Linked DNA regions of Homo sapiens: region 1 is linked to region 2. Evidence: fine-mapped expression QTL. Tissue or cell type: lung. Region 2 holds a variant in brackets; the other region holds the start of a gene. All regions are shown on one strand. Distances are from middle to middle.

Region 1 (10,258 bases), 330 kb before region 2:
CGACATTATCTGGTTTTTTGTTTATTTAATTTTCCCTTTTGTGAGTCTGCCTCCCCCCACCTCCCCAGGGTAAGCACTAATGTGGCAGGAGTTTATCTGATGTGCTCGCTGAGCAGCCTTGCACACAGCACCGTGCTTGGTACGCAGCATGTGCAAACGTGTGCAATATGTGCTGGACAAATGAGGACAATAACAAGGACAGTGATCATTGCTGGCAAGTGCAGAATTAGCCACAGATTCTGAGTAAATACCAATGACCAGAAAAGTTTAGAGGACTTTTAAATGTCTCTCCCACCCTATCTGTCATTTAGATTCATCCTGTTAGGACTCACTTACTGGTTGGTGTTATGCTTAGGGTCTGTCCCTGCAATGGGCTCAATGCTCATGTTCCCCTGCCCCAAACCCCATCCCCAAGGTGATGTTATATGGAGGTGGAGCCTGTGGGGGGTGATTAGGTCATGAGGGAGGAGGGCTAATGAAATCTCATTCCAATTTTAGAACACGTGCTGCAGAAGCAAACACGTCATGAAATCTCCTATGTTGAAATGCCATCCTCCAGGTGATGTTACTTGGAGGTGGCACCTGTGGAAAGTGATTAGGCCATGAGGGAGGAGGTCTCATGAATGGGGTTCATGAGCTTATGAAAGAGGCCCAACAGAGCTCACTTGCCTCTTCCACCATGTAAAGACACAGTGAGAAGACGGCCCTCTAGGAACCAGGAAGCGGGCTCTCACCAGACACCGAGTCTGTCGGTGATTTTCTCCTGGATTTCCCAAACTCCAGAGCTGTGAGGAACCAATTTCTGTTGTTAGAAACGACCCAGCTTATGGGATTTTGTTATAGCACCCAAATGGACTTAGGCCTTGTTTTATGATTTCAAACATGACAGGAGCAAGTTGATCTACATTAATTGACCTATCTAATTAGTCTTTTCCTGGAATAAAGTTTCTCAGAAAGTGGGTATAAAATCTTAGAGCAGTGATTACTTTATGGGTAAATAGGCAAATATAATTTTCATTTCAACACAGTTACTTTCAGGGTGAAATTGGCTACTATTGATAATGACAACAGGACAACAGATAGAAAACCAGGATTGTCCTGGACACCATGGAAAGTTCTGGAAAGGAAATTAGAAACAAGATGAACAGAGAAAAGAAAGACACAAGGATATGCTGAAACATTTTGAAACACTGTCACAATGACTAGTAGAGGAACATACTAGTATGTAGTAAACAAACTTAAGCTCACTGAAAAAGATGGAGTAAAAACATAAGCGTAGGAAACAGCCAGTCTCTAGAACAGTAAACATCCCTGTAAATAGGCCACTGCTGTGACCACAGGGCAGGAGGGCAAACAAACAATTGCATGTATCCACATTGTAGAAAGAACATCAGGTTCAGAATGATTCATTCATACAACTCTGTCTCGGCGTGAAGGATTCACACATATACACAGACAAGAAGATAGGAGACGGCCAGGCGCGGTGGCTCAGGCCTGTATGTAATCCCAGCACTTTGGGAGGCCGAGGCGGGTGTATCATGAGGTCAGGAGATCGAGACCATCCTGGCTAACACGGTGAAACCCCGTCTCTACTAAAAAAAAATACAAAAAATTAGCCGGGCGTGGTGGCAGGTGCCTATAGTCCCAGCTATTCGGCAGGCTGAGGCAGGAGAATGGCGTGAACCTGGGAGGCAGAGCTTGCAGTGAGCCAAGATCGCACCACTGCACTCCAGCCTGGGTGACACAGCGAGACTCTGTCTCAAAAAAAAAAAAAAAAAAAAAAAAGACAGAAAAGAAGATAGGAGACGTCTCAGCTGCACCATGGACAAGCCTCTCCAGGCATAATCTTCAGTTTATCCTAAGAATATATTAACCGGCAACTTGTTTTCTGATTATTCACTAAAGTCAACTCAGTTATAAAACAACAGACAGTTTACAAAGATAAGGATCATAGAGTGACAGGAGGGGAAGCCACCTAAAGAAGGCATTGATGATCAAGGATAGAAAATTGCAAAGCAGATGTAGAGGGGTCAAGGAATATTATATCTTGAGTACAGTAAAGGGGGGTGGATGAGTTATAATTCCATCTTGCTGCCCTCAGCTCTATTGATTCTTCGGCTCCTTAAATATGAAAATAGAAGAAAGGCAAACACTTAACAGGTATTTTTAAAAATCTGGATGGGCTAAGCTAAATCCATATGGGCCCATTCCACTTGATATGCAGGTGAGCACATAGTCCTTTCACGGCAATGGCAAAGGTGAAGTTACACCTGTATTGCTTTCTTGGAGCCCTGGGAAATATTGGTCACCTGAACTCCTCAAAAACAAGTGTGGAGAAAGGGAAGTGAGCAACAAGGTACCTGGTGTCATTGTCCTGGTAGAAGCACTGCGGGGAGGAGTCCTGCAAGCTGCAATCAGCTGAGTCAGGGAAGGACAGGACAGAGGCCCTGGCCAAGTTTCCTTTAAGAAAATAGCAATTTTCTCCCACAAGTAACGTGACATTCAATTTCACCCAATATCCACACCTGACTTTTGAAGGTCAGAGAACTGACAGTGTGTTTTATTTTGTCAGCAGTCAAAGAATACGGGGAATGTGGGAGAGTACTATTATGCCTGGTTTTTTTGTTTTGTTCTGTTTTGTTTTTTAGACTGAGTCTCAGTCTGTTGCCCAGGCTGGAGTGCAATGGTGCAATCTCAGCTCACTGCAACCTCTGCCTCCTGGGTTCAAGCTATTCTCCTGCCTCAGTCTCCTGAGTAGCTGGGATTACAGGCATGCACCACCACACTGGCTAATTTTTTTGTGTTTTTAGTAGAGGTGCGGTTTCACCATGTTGGCTAAGCTGGTCTGACCTCAGCTGATCAGCCCACCTTGGCCTCCCAAAGTGCTGCTGGGATTACAGTGTGAGCCACCCCGCCCAGCCGATTATTAGACCTGTTTTATGATGTACAATTTGATTTAAGAAATCTTAAGGAAAAACAGCAAATGCAAGATATTTAATGCAAAGCAGAGATAGTTTTCCTTTAGTAGAATTGTCTTAACAATCATCATACTGTCTTCCACAATGGTTGAACTAATTTACATTCCCACCAACAGCATCAACACGTTCCTATTTCTCCACATCCTTTCCAGCATCTGTTGTTTCCTGACTTTTTAATGATCGCCATTCTAACTTGCGCCATTCTAACTGGTGAGACGGTATCTCATTGTGGTTTTGATTTGCATTTCTCTAACGACCAGTGATGAAGAGCTTTTTTTCATGTTTGTTGGCCACATAAATGTCTTCTTTAGAGAAGTGTCTGTTCATATCCTTTGTCCACTTTTTGATGGGGTTGTTTTTTTTTTTCTTGTAAATTTGTTTAAGTTCCTTGTAGATTCTGGATATTAGCCGTTTGTTAGATGGATAGATTGCACAAATTTTCTCCCATTCTGTAGGTTGCCTGTTCACTCTGACAATAGTTCTTTTTGCTGTGCAGAAGCTCTTTAGTTTAATTAGATCCCACTTGTCAATTTTGGCTTTTGTTGCCATTACTTTTGGTGTTTTAATCATGAAGTCTTTGCCCATGCCTATGTCCTGAAAGATATTGCCTAGGTTTTCTTCTAGGCTTTTTATGGTGGTTTGAGGTCTTATGTTTAAGTCTTTAACACCATGGAATACTATGCAGCCATAAAAACGGATGAGTTTATGTCTTTTGCAGGGACATGGATGAAGCTGGAAACCATCATTCTCAGCAAACTAACACAGGAACAGAAAACCAAACACTGCATGTTCTCACTCATAAATGGGAGTTGAACAATGAGAACACATAGAAACAGGGAGGGGGACATCACACACCTGGGCCTGTTGAGGGGAAGAATAGCATTAGGAGAAATACCTAATGTAGATGACAGGTTGATAGGTGCAGCAAACCACCATGGCATGTGTATACCTATGTATCAAACCTGCACGTTCTGCACATATATACCAGAATTTAAACTACAATAATAATTTTAAAAATCACTAAACAACAACAACAACAACTAAAAACCATTCATCATATTGTGTCCTGAATTGGTTCCTTCCAGTGGGTTCTTGGTCTCGCTGACTTCAAGAATGAAGCCGCAGACCCTCGTGGTGAGTGTTACAGTTCTTAAAGATGGTGTGTCTGGAGTTTGTTCCTTTAGATGTTCAAATGTGTCCAGAGTTTCTTCCTTCTGGTGGGTTCGTGGTCTTGCTGACTTCAGGAGTGAAGCCACAGACCTTCGCAGTGAGTGTTAAAGCTCTTAAGGGTGGTGCAGAGCCAAAGAGCAGCAAGATTTATTGTGAAGAGCGAAAGAACAAAGCTTCCACAGCGTGGAAGGGGACCCCCGCGGGTGGTCATTGGTGGCTCTGGTGGCCAGCTTTTATTCCCTTATTTGGCCCTACCCACGTCCTGCTGATTGGTCCATTTTACAGAGTGCTGATTGGTGTGTTAACAATCCTTTAGCTAGACAGAAAAGTTCTCCAAGCCCCTACTCGACCCAGGAAGTCCAGCTGGCTTCACCTCTCAGTATTATCTCCCCTAGCCAATCAAAAACGTTTAGGGTACCAGATATGGTAGCTCACTCCTGTAATTCCAGCATTTTGGGAGGCTGAGGCTGGCAAATTGCTTGATCTCAGGAGTTTTAGACCAGCCTGGGAACATGGCAAAACGCTGTCTCAAAAAAAAAAAAAAAAAAAAATTGAAGGGTGTGATGGCCTGCGCCTGTAGTCTGGCTACTTGGGGGTAGGGGACTGGAGGTAGGGGAGTGAGGGTAGGGGACTGGGGGTAGGGGACTGAGGTGAGGGTTTCTCTTGAGGCCCAGAATTCGAGGCTGCAGTGAGCTATGATTATGTCATTCCATCCCAGCCTGGGTGACAAAGTGAGACCCAGTCTCAAAAAAAAAAAAAAAGAAAAGAAAAGAAAAAAAAAAGTTTAGGGCACTATTATTTCCTAAATGTAATTATAAACTGAATTCCTTGGAAATATTCATTTGAATTGACTAAAACATGATAATATTATGTCAATTTACGTTTCTAAATGTATTTTTATTATTTTCATCCTTATTAGATTATTTCCTAGCTGCTTTCAAATTAGTAATCATAATTATGCAAAAACAAACGTAAGTCATCAAAAGGTAGGCATGTCAGCATTAAACCTGCTATTTTTAGGATAAGATCCACTTTCCGTGAAGTTTGTTTTATTGCTTCCTAGTTCTCTGTGCAGAAATGTGCTCCGGGAGGCCTGCCCTGCTCCGCCCAGCTGTCAATCTGCTGCGCGTTTCCCTCACCAGCTACTGCTTCCTCCTGGGCCTCCCGGCATTCACCAGCCAGGAGGCAGAACTTGGCCTCCCTTAATCCTGAATAGGCATGCAGGGTTACATGCTAGACACAAAGGAAGCCACAGCCAGCAGAAGGCGAGCCGACAAGAACAAGGAAATGGTTCTGCCGTCACATCCCCTGGAATCTCTGTGCCTTGGTGTCTCCGTTGGTAAAGACAGGATGTCCTAGATCTCCAAGGTTTCTTGAAAAACTAAAACCCATTATTGTTTAATGCCTTCTAGAAGTTGCCTAGGAAACACTTCTTAGAAAAGATTCACAAACAGACCTGGAATGAATCCTTCTCGCTCTTCATACACTGAGACAGGTTGAAATCTAAGACCATGGCAGGGAGAAGCCGCACGCGGAGTCGCACTGTCAGGATCCAGGATCGGTAGGAAACAGGCTCTGTGCCCTGCTCTGGCACCAGCCGGGCTGGCCCTTATCTGAATCCATTCCAAATGCTTGACGCTACCTTAAGCCACAGAACTCAGAATTAGATATAATAGGCGAGGCAAATGCTCACTATTCATGATACAAGATAAATCCTGATAAGGATAATAAAAGTAGAAGTTATCTGTGATTAGCTTTAAACAAAGCTTTGCTGCCTTGAAAACACTTTCTTTTCCCATATCTATATCATTTTCTCCCACGGTAATTTCAAATCATGACCTTTTATTTGGAATTTGAGCTCTGTACTTTCCCCTCTAAATGAACTATCCTTAGAAACATTAATTATCTTTGAAAGCATAATTTCAGTAGCAGCAAAAGAATTCACTGTAATTTAAAAATTCTAGTATTGGTTATTTCTATATTTTACTAATACAACTAACGCTGTCATAAGCACCCTTGTGATAACCCCTTGCTTCAAGACTATTTCTTATGTTAAATTACCATAATTTTTTTTTTTTAATTCATGCATTCAGATCTTAATCAGATTGCAAGTTCTTCAGGCTTGGAACCATATCACCACAATGAACAGCCAAGTATAAAGGGTCCCTGGGGAAACCCCAACCGGCCTGCGCCCTGGGAGAATGGGGTGGAGCCACGGAAGTTCACGCGCTTTGCAGAGGGGAGGAGCCTGGCCTCTCCTGATCCTGGATAGTACCTGAGATTCAATCGCTGAGGCGGGAAAACCCGCTAGCAGGACTGTTGCTTTGCTGAGAGTCCCTGTTTCCCTTTTTTTCCTTTTGGCCCGATAAATTCCATTTTTCTCACCCTTCAAAATCTCTGTGACCCTAATCTCTCATGGCCATGTGACATGGGCCCTAAAGAGAAAGTCCTACAACAATAGCTTTCATATGATAATATCAGTGATAAGCTGTCGTTTACAATGGACGCCTCTCAGGAAGGTGTCCCTCAATAACTTGAACATTTAAAAAATTAAAAGATTGATTGTAGAGAGTCCACCTATGAAATGAGCACATATTAGGGCAGAGCGAGAAAATCAACGTAAAGAAACAGAGCAGCTGGCATGTCTACAAAACTCAACTTGAACATAGTGGGGGATATTAGCATAACCGAAGAAAACCGCTGTCAGCAGTTTGGGAGGGAAGGACTGGGTCTGAACACACAGACAAATTATAGCAAGAGCCACCAAGGTGGACGTTGCTTACCCAGTGCTCATGGAGTGAGTCAGAGCCCAAAGTATTCTTCCCCTGAGCAAAGCCATCTCTATTGTCAGATGCAGAAGCCCCAGCCAGGGGCCCGGAGATGCCTGGATTCTTCTAAATCCTGCAGGTCTTCGAGGCCTCTTGCAACTGTAATTGAGTTTCCTGTGTAGGTGCTCAGGGGAGAGAAAGCTCGGTTATTGAGACTTTCATTCTCCTGGACTTTGTAGAGTGATTTCTCATTGAATTTAAGAAATAACACACAGTCATTCAATTAGCAAAGCTTTAGCATGCAGCAGCTCTTCGCCAGGTCTTATGCCAGGCCCTGGGGATGAAAGGACGAACAAGATAACCCTGCCCTCAGGGAGCTTCCAGTCCAAAGAAACCCAGGAGGCTCAACACAATGTGATGATTTCTGTGACGTGGTTAAGTCCGGGGGGCCATAAAAAGCGGGGCCTCTAACCAGGTCTGTGGGCAGGCGAGCACTGGAGAAAGTTTCTATGAAGAGACAGCGTATCTGGATGAAAGCACACAGAAGAGTGTAAATTAGTCAGGTAAATGAATGAGGATGAGAGACCAGGGCTACGCAATGAGGAAGAAGTGGCTTCCAGGTAGAAAACAGGTGTGAGCCATTTTGTCCTCAAGAATCTACAAACTGTTGTGTGTGGACGGGGCACAGGTATGAAGTTATAGACCAGTAAGAGATGGGGCTAGACACACAGGCATGGAGACTCCTCCCCAGCCATGTGCAGGAGATCACTCTAAGGTTTGTGAGCAAGGAAGTCACCTACCATTTACTTCTGCAAAGGTCTCTATCATTACAGGGTGACTACTCTGCCCAGTACTATTGTAAATACTTCCCATACATTGAGCTGCACACTGGGGCTTATTATTCTCATTTTACTGCTGAGAAACTGAGTCCCTACCTCTTGGGCCCTTGCCCAGAGCCACACATGTGGCAGCTGCAGAGCTGGTGCCTTGACTTGGGTCCCCTGAGCCTGGAGTCTTGTGCACACAACTGCCGTCATGCTACACTGCCAGCGGGCAGGTAGACTGAGACCAGGGCATGGCCCCTCATCTGCATGTAAGCAAGGCTGCTGCTTCTCTGTGTGGGTGATGCTGGTAGGGTTTCCTAACCCAGGCCAACAATGAAAACATTAAGTAACACTGGGTTCAGGGCCACCCATTGCAAAATACGTTGGTAAGATCCTGTTAGGTCTAAATTGATCTGTTTTTTAATGGCTCAGTTTCAGCTCCAGGCTTCAGCAGATGTGTCGTTGAGGCGGTGTAAGATGAAAGTACATATGGCCGAGGCCGTGAGCTAAATGCAGCAGTGGGCTGTGTCTGGAGAAGACAGCCTTTTGAAGTGTGTTGAAGAATAGTTAATGGCAAGAGAGAGTGCTTTGGACACATTGTGTGGTTTTTAAAGAAGGCTATAAAATTGATATGCTGTATAGTGGACATTGTGTTTCACATGTACACACCCAATGTATAAATAGAAAAACACAGGAAAAGATTATATCAAAATACAGAGTGGCAGACTTATACATGATTTTAGCTTTCTTCTATTTTCCACATTTTTTTATGATAAACACGCACTGTTTTGTATATTCAGGAATATTTTTTCTCCAAGAAGTTGTCACCAGAAACTTAAGAAAAAGCCTTTTTATTGAAATATGCATTTAAAAAGTGCACAAATGAAAATTTTACAGCTTGACAAGGCCCCAGAGTCAGCCCATGATGTAGCCGGTGCCCAGGTCTACCTAGGAGGAGAATATTACCACCCTTTCCAGAAGCTTCAGGCTCTGCAAAGATAAATTCTGATGCCACAAATAGTTTGCCTGTTTCTGAAGTTTATATAAGTGGAGTGCAGTGCAGTGTGTACCCTTTGGCATGTAGCTGATTTACATCAACACTGTGCTTATGAGGATTCTCCTGTGTTCCTGCAAGCGGCAATCATGTTTCCTTCTCTTTGCTACATCATGCTCCACTGTATGAACATGCTGCATTGAGATTGTTCCCGCCATGACTAGCTGGGCCCAGTTAATGCAAGTGCTCCACTTTAATAAGATTTTCAGAGTTTTCCAAAATGATTCTACCACATTACACCCTTGCTAACCATGCAGGTGAGTACTAGTTGCTCCACATTTTTACAGACACCTGTGTTCATTTTGCTCTTTCTGGTGGGTATCTAATGGGATTGTAGTGTGATTTCAATTTGCAATTTCTTCATGACAAATGAAGTTATGCACCTTTTCATATTGATGGCAGCGGCCATCACAGCAGTTGCAGCAGGGAGGCGCAGCTAGGGCTGCACACTCCATGGGGCCAGTGGACCCTGCCCCTTCTGAGTTGGGGCGGGAACTCCCTGGGTGCTGTTGCAGCCACCCAAACTGCAGCTGCAGACCCAGGCCTCCTGCTCTACAGAGTAGGCAGGAGCTGGGAACAAGCAGGAACCCTGCCCCTTTAGAGTCAGTGGGGGTAGGGAGCTCCTGGGTGCAGCCCAGGCACAGGACCCAGGCATCTCTGCAGCCTGTACCCATGGGGTCCTCAGGAAGGAACCCCCCATGTCCCTGCAGTCTCAGGAGTATCTTCCCCCACTGCCTGGCCTCTCTTTGTGCCACGAGCCTGCTCCCATCTCAGAGTAGGGATTGGGGCCAAGCCCCAAGGGCCATGAATGGCAGTGGGAGGCAGATTGATTCCTGAATGGAAATGGGCAGGTCCCCATGAAGGCCCCCCTTCAGGCTAGGGAGGGCCTGAAGGCTGGAGTGGGGACTCATGGTGCCTCTTCCAGCCCCACCCATGGCTGCCCATGGACCAATCAGCACGCATTTCCACCCCTCTGAGGTCCATAAAAGCCCTGGGCTCAGCCAGAGCAGGGCAGAGGATGGCCAGAGGACCAAGAGGGCAGAAAGAAGAGGAGACAACCAGCTGCAGAGAGGAGTACCCTCTCTGCTGATAGTTGGAGATGATGTGACAACCAGTTGCAGAGAGCAGCTACCATCTCTGATGAGAACTGCTGTGGGCAGAGATAAGCCACCCTCTCCAGGGCCTCCTCTCCGCTGAGAGCTGCAGACATCTGGAGGACTAGTTGAGAGGAGCTACCCTCTCCAGGGCCTCCTCTCTGCTGAGAACTGAACACTCAACAGATGGCCTGCCTGCAGAGAGGAGCTACCCACTGCAAGTCTCCTCTGAGCTATTCTAACACTCAATAAAGTTCATCTTCATCTTGTGCACCCTTCACTTGTCTGCATAACTCCTTCTTCCTGGACACAGGACAAGAGCTTGGGTAAAGGTGCTGTGGCCACAGAGGTTTCTGGCCAGAAAAATCGA
Region 2 (10,258 bases):
AGGAAATGATTGAATACGAAGTATTTGAAAAAAGATTTGAAAGACTGAAAATGAAACACTTCCTTACATTCGCTAAGTGAGCTGAGAAAGAATTGCCCAGAAGGGTGATACGGAGGGCTAGAGAATGAAGACGACAGGGAGTGGAAGGAGAGAGCCCACCTACATGGCACCCAGCTTTGCAGAGGCTCCTGAAGACACAAGGTTGAAGGCCCTGGACTCAAAAATTTCCTTGACTCTGCCAGGCAAGAGGGTTAGCTGTTTCAGCAGAGGGTAGAGCCAAGCGAAAGCTGGAGAGTGAATAAGAAATGCTAGGAGCAATTGCGTCAGGTGGGGCAACCAGGACTGTGTTTGCCTTCGGACCAGGGCTGCCGAGTACAGATAGCAGGTGGTTTATGTGAGGCCTGGAGCAGGGGTCATTGCAGGAGACGGGGTTGCTGTGTGCCTATAAATGGAGTGAAAAAGTGAGTGCAAAGAAATGGAAAAGTTAGGAGATGCAGCATAACCTGTGAATCATGATCCCTGACAAAGTGGGGAGGCTCATGGGTGCAGGTGTAGGTGTGTGTGTGTGTGTGTGTGTGTGTGAGATCACATGGCTGTGGACAGAGGTGGGCTGGAACCCCTAACTTCCAGGAAACTCCAGGTTCTTTTCTTCTTCTACCCATAGGTCTGCATTGTGTTTTTCTAGGGTCACTCATCTATTCATCCAACAAATATTCAACAAGCACCTGTTACATACCAGATTATTACATACATGTGGCAGTGCACGTAACTGTGAAGCTGTGTACTACAGCTGCAGGGCGAGGACTGGGGCTTTAGCTCCCACCTTGTGCAATGTGGGATCTTCTCCATCGTCATATCAAGCCACCCCACGTGTATTTAATGTAAGTTGGAACACTGTGCTTGCTACAAAAGTCAGCTTCAGAAGAAGCCCCTCCGTGGATCACCACCTCCCTACAAGCTGCAGTCCTAATCTCCTATGTCAAAATCAGGGACTGCTGCTGCCCCGGGGGGTTTAGAGATGAAGACCCAGACTCTGACTGAGGAGTCTCCCAGTGAAAGGAAGGAGGCAGAAGCCCAGTCACCAGTGACGCCACCCAGCTGAGTGGACCGCGCAGAGGGAGGCGGACGCAGGGCACTCCAACATGGACCTGAGAGGCACACACTGCAATGCAAATCCTCCACGATAGTCCACAGGATGTACTGGGAGAAACTGGAAGGCCACAGGAGAAACGTTTGCTCACGAAAACACAGGCATTTCATGTGCCTGGAGCACGGGATGAAGAATTCCTTAGACTTTGAGTGCCAAGCTAGTGCTTGGACTTTCTTCTAAAGGTCATGGGTGAGCCCTTGGGGAATGTGGAGACCACTCCGGCCTGCGATGGAGAAGGAAATTGTGCCAGAAGCTGGGAAGTCAAAGTTAACCCTCCAGGCTAGATGTAAGTAACGCGTGGGGCTGCACATACGGCTGTGGCAGAGGAAATGGGACAGAGGGATTGATTTTAGTACAGAAATCCTAATTGGGCTTAAAGTAGGTATGGGAAAACCCCTGAAAGTGTGTGCTGATCTTGGTATGTGCAGATATTATTTTCCTCCTGGGGTAAACTTTAATTCTCAAAGGAGTCTATGACCCCCAAAAAAGTCATCTCCCTACTTGAAAGATGCTTGAGTGTCTAATGGCCAGGAGCGGGTGTTGGTGGGATACCAAGCGGTGGGAGGAACACAGTATCGTCCTCAAGCCTCTGACTTCTCCTAGACAGGGTAGCTAAGAGGACTTTTCAGATATGTTGCTTTTGAGGTGTCTGTGAGGAGAGGGAGGCAGGAAACGCAGGCACACGCACTCACAGTGGACGCGTCTTTAGAAAGCTGCACATTCTCTAATTGAGTTAATTGTTCACGCACTGAATGGAGCTGTTTCTGCTCAAGCTAGGGAAAGACTTGTCAGCTGTTTCTTCACTTCCATGACCTTGGAAAATCCGCTGTCTCCACCAGACACTGATCCTTGGCACAGCCACTATTTGATACACTTAACTCTGCTCAGGATTTTAGATCTCAACCCAGGAAATGAGCTACAGTCTCACCCCAGGCAAGTACAGAACATTTTCCTAACCAGGAGAGACGCCTGTGTCACACATTCCAAAGGTAGCCAGCAGCTAAGAAAGCCGCAACAAAGGAAATCAAACAGCTCTCTCTCCCCTAAACGCTGCTTTCAGGCAAGTTCCAAACAAAAATGGAGGATGCACTGCAAATTAAAAACAAAAGCCTGCCAGTCAAAGGCAGTGTTTTTAAACACAGAAAGAGCAATACCACTGCAGGGGGCAGATAAAAGAGCTTTTGAGCATCTCAGAAGCTACTCACACACAAAAGCACCTCTGTGCCTTCAAACAGGATCTCCTAGAAGTTTCCCAAGGTTTCATAACCCAAATACCGCTGGTAGTGATGTGGTTTGGAAATTAACCTTGCTTTTCTCCCCACTGCTGTTTTACATATTAATTAAAGTGTTTTCCTCAGATCAGGAACGCCTGCAGGCTGGCTAGGTTCTGCAGAAGGTGCCTCATTTTCCTGCCGCTTCCCGCCCCGGCCCCACTTGTGCATAGTTCAATGATTAAAACTTCCCCAGGTCAGCTGTAGACGCCTCCCCTCCCTTAACTGCCATCGTGATATAGAACACACACTTTAATGTGGCTTTTAAAAAGTAATCGCTTCCCCACCCCCCAAGAAAGATAGGTCGTGCAGAGCTAATTTCGGGAAGCCATTTAGAAGAAATTGTTGAGAAGGCATTGAAGTATTTGGGTCCAACTCTGCTTACCTCATTCATGGACCTGTTTCTTTTCTTTTTTTTCTTTTCCAGTGCTTGAAATAGGTGTGCAAACAATTCACATATTATAAATACGTTGACTTGGGCCGGGTGTGGTGGCTCACGCCTGTAATCCCAGCACTTTAGGAGGCTGAGGCAGGAGGATTACTTGAGGTCAGGAGTTCCAGACAAGCCTGGCCAACATTGCAAAACCCTCTCTCTACTAAAGTACAAAAATTAGCCGGGCAAGGTGGTCCGTGCCTGTAATCTCAGCTACTCAGGAGGCTGAGGCAGGAGAATCGCTTAAACCCAGGAGATGGAAGTTGCAATGAGGCGAGATCACAACAACCCACTCCAGCCTGGGCGACAGAGCAAGACCCTGTCTCAAATAAATAACTAAAATGAAAATAAATAAATTGATTTGTTTTCATTCATATATTTTGGGGATACAATGGAGCTTAAAGTTTGAAAACCAAAACGGAGCTGGCCACCAAAGGTGTGGATTTGGTCAACAGGGTGTGGACTCCAGCAGCCCGTGTCACTCTCAGACTCCATGTCTCAATTTGAATGTTTCCATGTCACTTAAAAAGTAGAATATTCATAGTGATGTTGAAGATACAAAAGATATACCAGGATTAATTTTCTAGTCAATTTTATGTGTCTGTGACCCAAGACAATAAAAGTTAAGTCATCGTTAGTTCCTTAGTTGCTGGACACTTTAGCCCAATATACCACCTTCAATTTTGAATTATTATTTGGACTGTGTTCATGAGATTCTTGGAGTATGTTAAATCAACACATTTCTTTGTAATTATTGAGAACCTTTTGTTCCCTATAAAATCAAGTGTACGATGATGTAAACTATAAAACGCAAATTGTAGGGACAATTGGTAATCTGCAGTGAAAATAAAGTCAAAATAGCAAAGAGCAGATTATTCTCAAATTTATGTAACAGAGTTCTTACATGTGGAAGTGGATACAAGTATTAGCACATTCAGTTGATGTACTGAAAATAAAATGAAACTATTTTTCTACTTACTACTTGCTTGTGAAATCCAAAGGGGTGAATAAGAGCCAGGATTCATTGTCATGAGTGTAGGGGTGCCCTGGGAAGGAGGCCTCCATCCCACGTGTCAGTGGCGTCATCAGAAATTCCATGATCGTCGGCTTATTCTTTGCACACGTGTCTACAGGGTCCCTCCGCACACCGACTTGGTGTCCTCCAGGATGCAGAAAACCCAAATTAAACTAGTTTAATGAATAAGGAAACTAAGTGGCTCTTAGGACCATAAGCCCTGCGGTGACGCCTGCTTCAGGGCTGGAGGAGCTAAGTGTTCTCTGGTTCACCAAAGCCCCCAGTTCTTTCCGTCTGTCACTCATAGCTTCGGCTTCGTCCCCGGCTCACTGCCAGTGGTAATCAGGCTGCCCAAGAACTTCTGAAATCCACAGCCCGGTGTTTCCAAACGAATTATCAGTAGGGTTGGAATCCCTTCTCCCCAGCCCCAGCCCCAGCAAGGCCCTCCAACGCCACTGCAGTTCCCTGGATAGCAGGAAGAGGCCTGAGCCGGCTCTCCCGGAGCTCCAGGTGCAGAGTCTCCCCACATGGGAGTCAGTGTTCTCAGAGCAGCATTTGTTGACCTGAGCTAACCAAGTTCTCTAACTGAAAGCCTGGCTGTGTAAAGCCACAGATGTCTGGCATTAGAATAGCTCAAGGACAGGAGAAAAAACTGACAATCAGTCCAGAACGGCATCCCAGGACTTCTGCTCTGAGGAGAAAACAGGACTAAACCCCAGCTGAGGTCTATTTCCAACTCCAAGATTCTGCAATGTTATCTCTGTTTAAAAAGATATCCCACTTTTTGATGACAGTGTGTCTGGAATTGGTGGGTTCTTGGTCTCACTGACTTCAAGAATGCAGCTGCGGACCCTGGCGGTGAGTGTTACAGCTCTTAAAGGCGGCATGTCCGGAGTTTGTTCCTTCTAGGTGGGTTCCTGGTCTCTCTGGCTCAGGAGTGAAGCTGCAGACCTTAGCGGTAAGCTGTTACAGCTCTTAAGTCAGCGCGTCTGGAGTCGTTCGCTCCTCCCGGTGGGTTC[G/A]TGGTCTCGCTAGCCTCAGGAGTGCAGCTGCAGACCTTCGTGGTGACTGCTACAGCTCATAAAAGCAGTGTGGACCCAAAGACTGAGCAGTAGCAAGATTTATTGCAAAAGACGAATGAACAAAGCTTCCACACGACAGACACAAACCCTAACAGATTGCCACCGCTAGCTCGGAGAGCCTGCTTTTCTTCCCTTATCTGGCTCCACCCACATCCTGCTGATTGGCCCATTTTACAGAGAGCTGATTGGTCTGTTTTACAGAGAGCTGATTGGTCTGTTTTGACAGGGTGCTGATTGGTGCGTTTACAATCCTGAGCTAGACACAAAGGTTCTCCAAGTCCCCACCAGATTAGCTAGACACAGGGTGCTGATTGGTGCATTTACAAACCTTGAGCTAGATACAGAGTGCTGATTGGTGTATTCACAATCCCTTAGCTAGACATAAATGTTCTCCAAGTCCCCACCAGATCAGCTAGACACAGAGTGCTGATTGGTGCATTTACAAACCTTGAGCTAGATACAGAGTGCTGATTGGTGTATTTACAATCCCTTAGCTAGACATAAAGATTCTCCAAGTCCCCACCAGACTCAAGAGCCCAGCTGGCTTCACTCAGTGGATCCCGCCCGGGGGCTGCAGGTGGAGCTGTCTGCCAGTCCCACGCTGTGCGCCCGCACTCCTCAGCCCTTGGGCGGTTGTTGGGACTGGGCGCCGTGGAGCAGGGGGCGGCGCTCATAGGGGAGGCTCGGGCCGCCAGGAGCCCACGGCGGGGGTGCGGGGGCAGGCTCAGGCATGGCGGGCTGCAGGTCCCGAGCCCTGCCCTGCGGGGAGGCAGCTAAGGCCCGGCGAGAAATCGAGCGCAGCGCCGGTGGGCCGGCACTGCTGGGGGACCTGGCGCACCCTCCGCAGCTGCTGGCTCGGGTGCTAAGCCCCTCACTGCCCGGCCGCTCCGAGTGCGGGGCCCGCCAAGCCCACGCCCACCCGGAACTCTAGCTGGCCCGCAAGCGCCGCTCCCAGCCCTGGTTCCCGCCCGTGCCTCTCCCTCCACACCTCCCCGCAGGCTGAGGGAGCCGGCTCCTGCCTCAGCCATCCCAGGAGGGGGCTCCCACAGTGCAGCGGCGGGCTGAAGCGCTCCTCAAGCGCGGCCAGAATGGGCGCCGAGGCCGAGGAGGCACCGAGAGCGAGCAAGGCCTGTGAGGGCTGCCAGCATGCTGTCACCTCTCGACAGAGTCACAAAGCATTTACTGAATGCCTACTGTATGCCAGGCCCTTTTCTCAAGTCTGCTTAACCAGGAGTGAAGAAGGCTGACATTACCGTCCATGTCACATTCTGGTAGGAGAGGGATACAGAGAACACTACAAGTAGGTGAAATAGGTAGTACTTTAAAGAATGAGAACAACATGGAAAAGGAGGCTATGAAATACTGAGAATATGGCTGGAGTTTTCATTTTAGATAAGTAAATAGCCAAAGAAGCCTTGACTGAGGAAGCAGCCAGCCCTGTAAGAAAGGAGACCCCTGCCATGGTCCTGAGACAAGGGTTTGAGTGGTTTCCGCAGGAGGCATTTCCAGGAGGGGAAGGAGGGAAACAACGAGGGAAAAGTACAAGGTGTGCTCACCCCTGAATGAGTCCCCGGGGCAACCCGGATCCACCTGTCCAGGCTCCTCTGAGCACGTGGGGAGCACGTGGAGAGGGAGTGGGGGAGTCGTGGGGGAGCGTGGGCAGCGCTTGGGGGAGCCGTTGGGGACTTGGGGAGAGCGTGGAGAGCCGTGGGGAGGGCGTGGCGGAGCTGTCGGGGAGCCGTGGGGGCGCGCGTGGTCAGCACTTGGGGAGCGCATTGAGAGCCGTGGGGAGCACTGAGGGAGGATGCGGTGGCCACGGCTGCGTGGCACCCCCAGGCCATGGCCAGGAGACCCTCGGGCGGCGCAGGTGCCGGAAGCAGCGCCATCCGTGCTATGGACGGGTCCCCCCAATTGGCAGCGGTCTCGGGGGTGAGCCAGAGGATGGGGTGACTGAGAGGTGGCCGATGTGGGGATGGTGGTTTTCAAATAGAGGCGAGATCGGAGCAGGAGCTGGGAACCAAACCAGAAGGTTTTCAGGACGTGGTTAGACTTTGAAGCGGCCTAAGGCTGTGGCACATCTGACCCACTTTCTCACCAACATTGCGGTGGCTTCTTAGTAAGGAACGGGCTGAAAGGGGTAAGGGAAAGGGTGGGGGCAGGGCACTGGGAAACCACCATTGCCAACATCCAGGCCAGGCAGGGGCGGCAGGGGCTGGGCCAGGGCGCAGGGGACCCGACTCTTGCTGCGGCCGCTGGGAAGAGGGAATTGCCATAGAGCCAGAACAGGAGGCGCTGGGGCAGGGCTCTGCTGTGGGGCGGGGTGCTCAGTTTGGGACAGTGTTGACACTTTTGGAGATCATCAGCCATCCCAGTAGGTGACTCCAGGAGGCCACTGGATATACAGCTCTGGGAACAAAAAACGGAATCATCAGCCTATTTACAACTCTGGAATGGATGAGATGGCTGTGACGACTGGCAGCAGCTGCGCCTGAGCCCTCAGCACCTGCAGGGTCCCATGGGAGGTGAGGGCTGTAAGGGAGCAAGCAACTCCTCTCCCTGGAGCAGGCGGGCAGGGAGAACAGACCGCCACTGTGCTGCTCTCAAAACCAAGTGCATGGCCGGTCGGGGTGGCTCAGGCCTGTAATCCCAGCACTTTGGGAGGCTGAGGCAGGCAGGTCACCTGAGGTCAGGAGTTCAAGACCAGCCTGGCCAACATGGTGAACCCCCTGACTAATAAAAATACAAAAATTAGGTGTGGTGGCACACACCTGTAATCCCAGCTACTCGGGAGGCTGAGGCAGGAGAATCGCTTGAACCCAAGACGCAGAGGTTTCAGTGAGCCGAAATTGTGCCACTGCACTCCAACCTGAGCCACAGAGTGAGACTTTGTCTTAAAAAAAAAAAAAAAAAAAGTGCAGAGTTGCTTTACATCTTTACATAGAGGAGAATGGTGTAAGACGCAGCTATTTGGTCAAACCTATGTGATTGAAACATTTGCATAGAAAGAGAGAGAGAAAGGATGGGAGAAGAAAATATAAACTAAATAACTCTCCTTTTTCTTTGCTGGCTTGTGTGTTTGCATTTATGAACACCAACATGAAATTTTGAACCTTAAATCTAGTATAAAAATATGGAACAGCCAGCTTCCTAGAGTGAGGGCACCATTCTGTGTTTGCTGCCGGTGGACCTAGTGTGGGTTTTGGCGCCAATGTCCTTTTCTGCTAAAACAACTTGGCCTCTTGGAAGGAAACTTGGACTCTGTTGCCCTGACTCAAACTGTTGTTTCATTTCTTATGATGTCTCCTCATGTTAAAAAAAAAAAGAATGTGGACATTATGGGTTTAAACATAATTTTGAATGAATGAGGAAATTCTGGTAGAGGGTTTGTCATAATGCAGTATCAATTGGTTAGGTCTTCTAAAGAAACATGTAGGGTTCTCTTAGGAACTGGTTCATTAAATCTAAAAGGCAAAAAAATTAAAACACACTTTTGATATATTTGTTGGAGTTACATATAATCATATCTTTCAAGAGCAGATGTGCCAAAATATACACAACAGAGTGTAGCTGGGTGACCCGAACTGACCACGAAAGTCATTTATCAAAATTCAAAGTTAGTTCCCCACAGGCCTGAATTTTCAGACCTACACACAATTCCACAAACAAATGATGGTAAAGTCCCAAACACCACATTCTTGGAGGGATCCAATGCTATTGGCACTGATGCTTTAATCAGAAAGAGGCTCAAACCCACTGGAGTTAAGCTCTCTGAAAGTCTTTGCTCCTTGGCAACCACGAGCAAACCTCTACAGCTGACTTTTTTAGAGTATTTTTTACATTTTTAAAAGGATTATTTCTGAATTATAAAACCACCGTTACCACCTTATTCTTGTAACTCTAACTTATTATTTTGAGTCAATTTATAAAACTTGATTCATGAGAGTCAAGATTCAGGGTAGGCCAGACAGTCACTCATTCCTACCCTCAAAGAGCATACACTCAAATAGAGAATGAAACACGTGCCCCAAGTCAGAGGTAAATATTATAAGCAAAAGCCAAAGTGTTCTGGGTCAAACACTTTTTGGGGGGTCAGTGAGGTCTTCATGCAGGGGTAACAGTGGAGAAAGGCCTTCAAGGATGGGGAAGATTTTCCCAGGCAGAGTTAAGAACAAAGAGAAAGCAGTTTGCCAGGAGACAGGGAAGCAAGTGTGCAGGGAGTGAATTTGAGGCCTTCCTAACTCTGGGTGTGACAGCAGAGGGGACCTGCCCATGAGCTGTCCGAGATGCAGCCAAAGGTTTCACCGCCCACGTGATAAGGGGCTAGAACACTGAAGTGTAGAATTTGGACTTTATTCAGTAAGAACGGGGAAGTACTGGGGGTCCCTGAGTAGAGAAGTGGGATCCTGCAAGCTGAGCATCACAATGATTCGTCAGGTGATGTCTCAGAGTTTCTCTGAATGGCACATAAACCAGAGACAGGAAGGTGAGTCCAGCCGTTTCTGTGGCCCAGCAAGAAGTAACAAGTAATAAGTAAAGTGCTATCAGTGGGAATGGCAAGGGAGGGGCGGTTACAAGTCACATTTCAGACAGGAGTTGATTGGATGTGGGGAGGGCCCAAGGATGTGGGGAGGGAGCTGTCAGAAATAAGTGGCCCTCTAAATTTTAGCCCCAGTGACTTAGAGAAAATGGTCAAGAGATGGAATTGGTTTTCAGGGAAGACACTGATCCATTCTGGACATGTTGAATTTAAGATGCCATTAGGAAAACCAAATTAAGGCACCTTGCAGGGAAATTGCACATGTAACATCCTGGCTTCTGGGATTTGAGAGGTGGCTGCAAAGAGAGAAAGGCAGTAAGGGATCTCCAGAGAAGGAGATCACACAGGAAGGAAGTGAGGGATGGGAAGTCATTGTTGGGAAGTTGAGGGTCAAGGACATTTAGAGAGCAGAGGGAGAAAGAAGGGGTGGCCATTGCACTAGCCAAAGAAAATGTTCAGCCACTCGCCCTGCAGGGAAGGCGAGGGGCAGGGTGGCTGCGCATAGATGTGGAATTAGCCGGACTCAGGGTGAAGCCATGATTCTGCTAGTGTGGTCTTGTAACCTGGGACATCTATCTGAGCGCCCTGTCAGCGCTTCTCTGCATTGTAAATGGGAGTTGTTGCAAGGGTGAAATAAGACGTAAGGTGTTTGGTGCAAGGTCTTGTGACAACTAGCACTAAGGAATGGTGCCTATGACCTTTATTAGGCAGGAAGGAGTCAACAGAGTGAGCTGCTGCTGCAGGGGGTTGGGAGCTCTTGCAACGGTGGCATC

Alleles and levels. Alleles are on the strand shown, and positions count from the first base shown. SD is a standard deviation of normalised expression in the study named.
For the expression in lung of the gene that starts at base 5,597 in region 1, allele A in region 2 goes with a lower level than allele G (small effect, 0.32 SD a copy in GTEx).

The links. PIP is the estimated chance that this variant, and not a neighbour inherited with it, causes the effect. A credible set is the group of variants that fine-mapping cannot tell apart.
Region 1: LINC00399 starts here. The variant in region 2 is the best candidate, but not a certain one, in a credible set for the expression of LINC00399 in lung (GTEx, PIP 0.59).

The regions. Positions count from the first base shown.
Region 1 is chr13:109,395,100-109,405,357 of GRCh38, forward strand. LINC00399 (long intergenic non-protein coding RNA 399) reads left to right here and starts at 5,597. Exons shown (of 2, transcript NR_126361.1): 1 at 5,597-5,709; 2 at 6,242-6,542. LOC105370359 (a long non-coding RNA gene) reads right to left here and starts at 9,205. Exons shown (of 3, transcript XR_001750017.3): 1 at 7,852-9,205; 2 at 6,932-7,442; 3 at 3,334-5,790.
Region 2 is chr13:109,727,110-109,737,367 of GRCh38, forward strand. It overlaps LINC00676 (long intergenic non-protein coding RNA 676), which reads left to right and starts at 1,165. Exons shown (of 3, transcript NR_103846.1): 1 at 1,165-1,436; 2 at 1,924-2,083; 3 at 2,849-2,925. RefSeq lists an enhancer at 6,213-6,714. The variant G/A (reference allele first, on the strand shown) is at 4,889.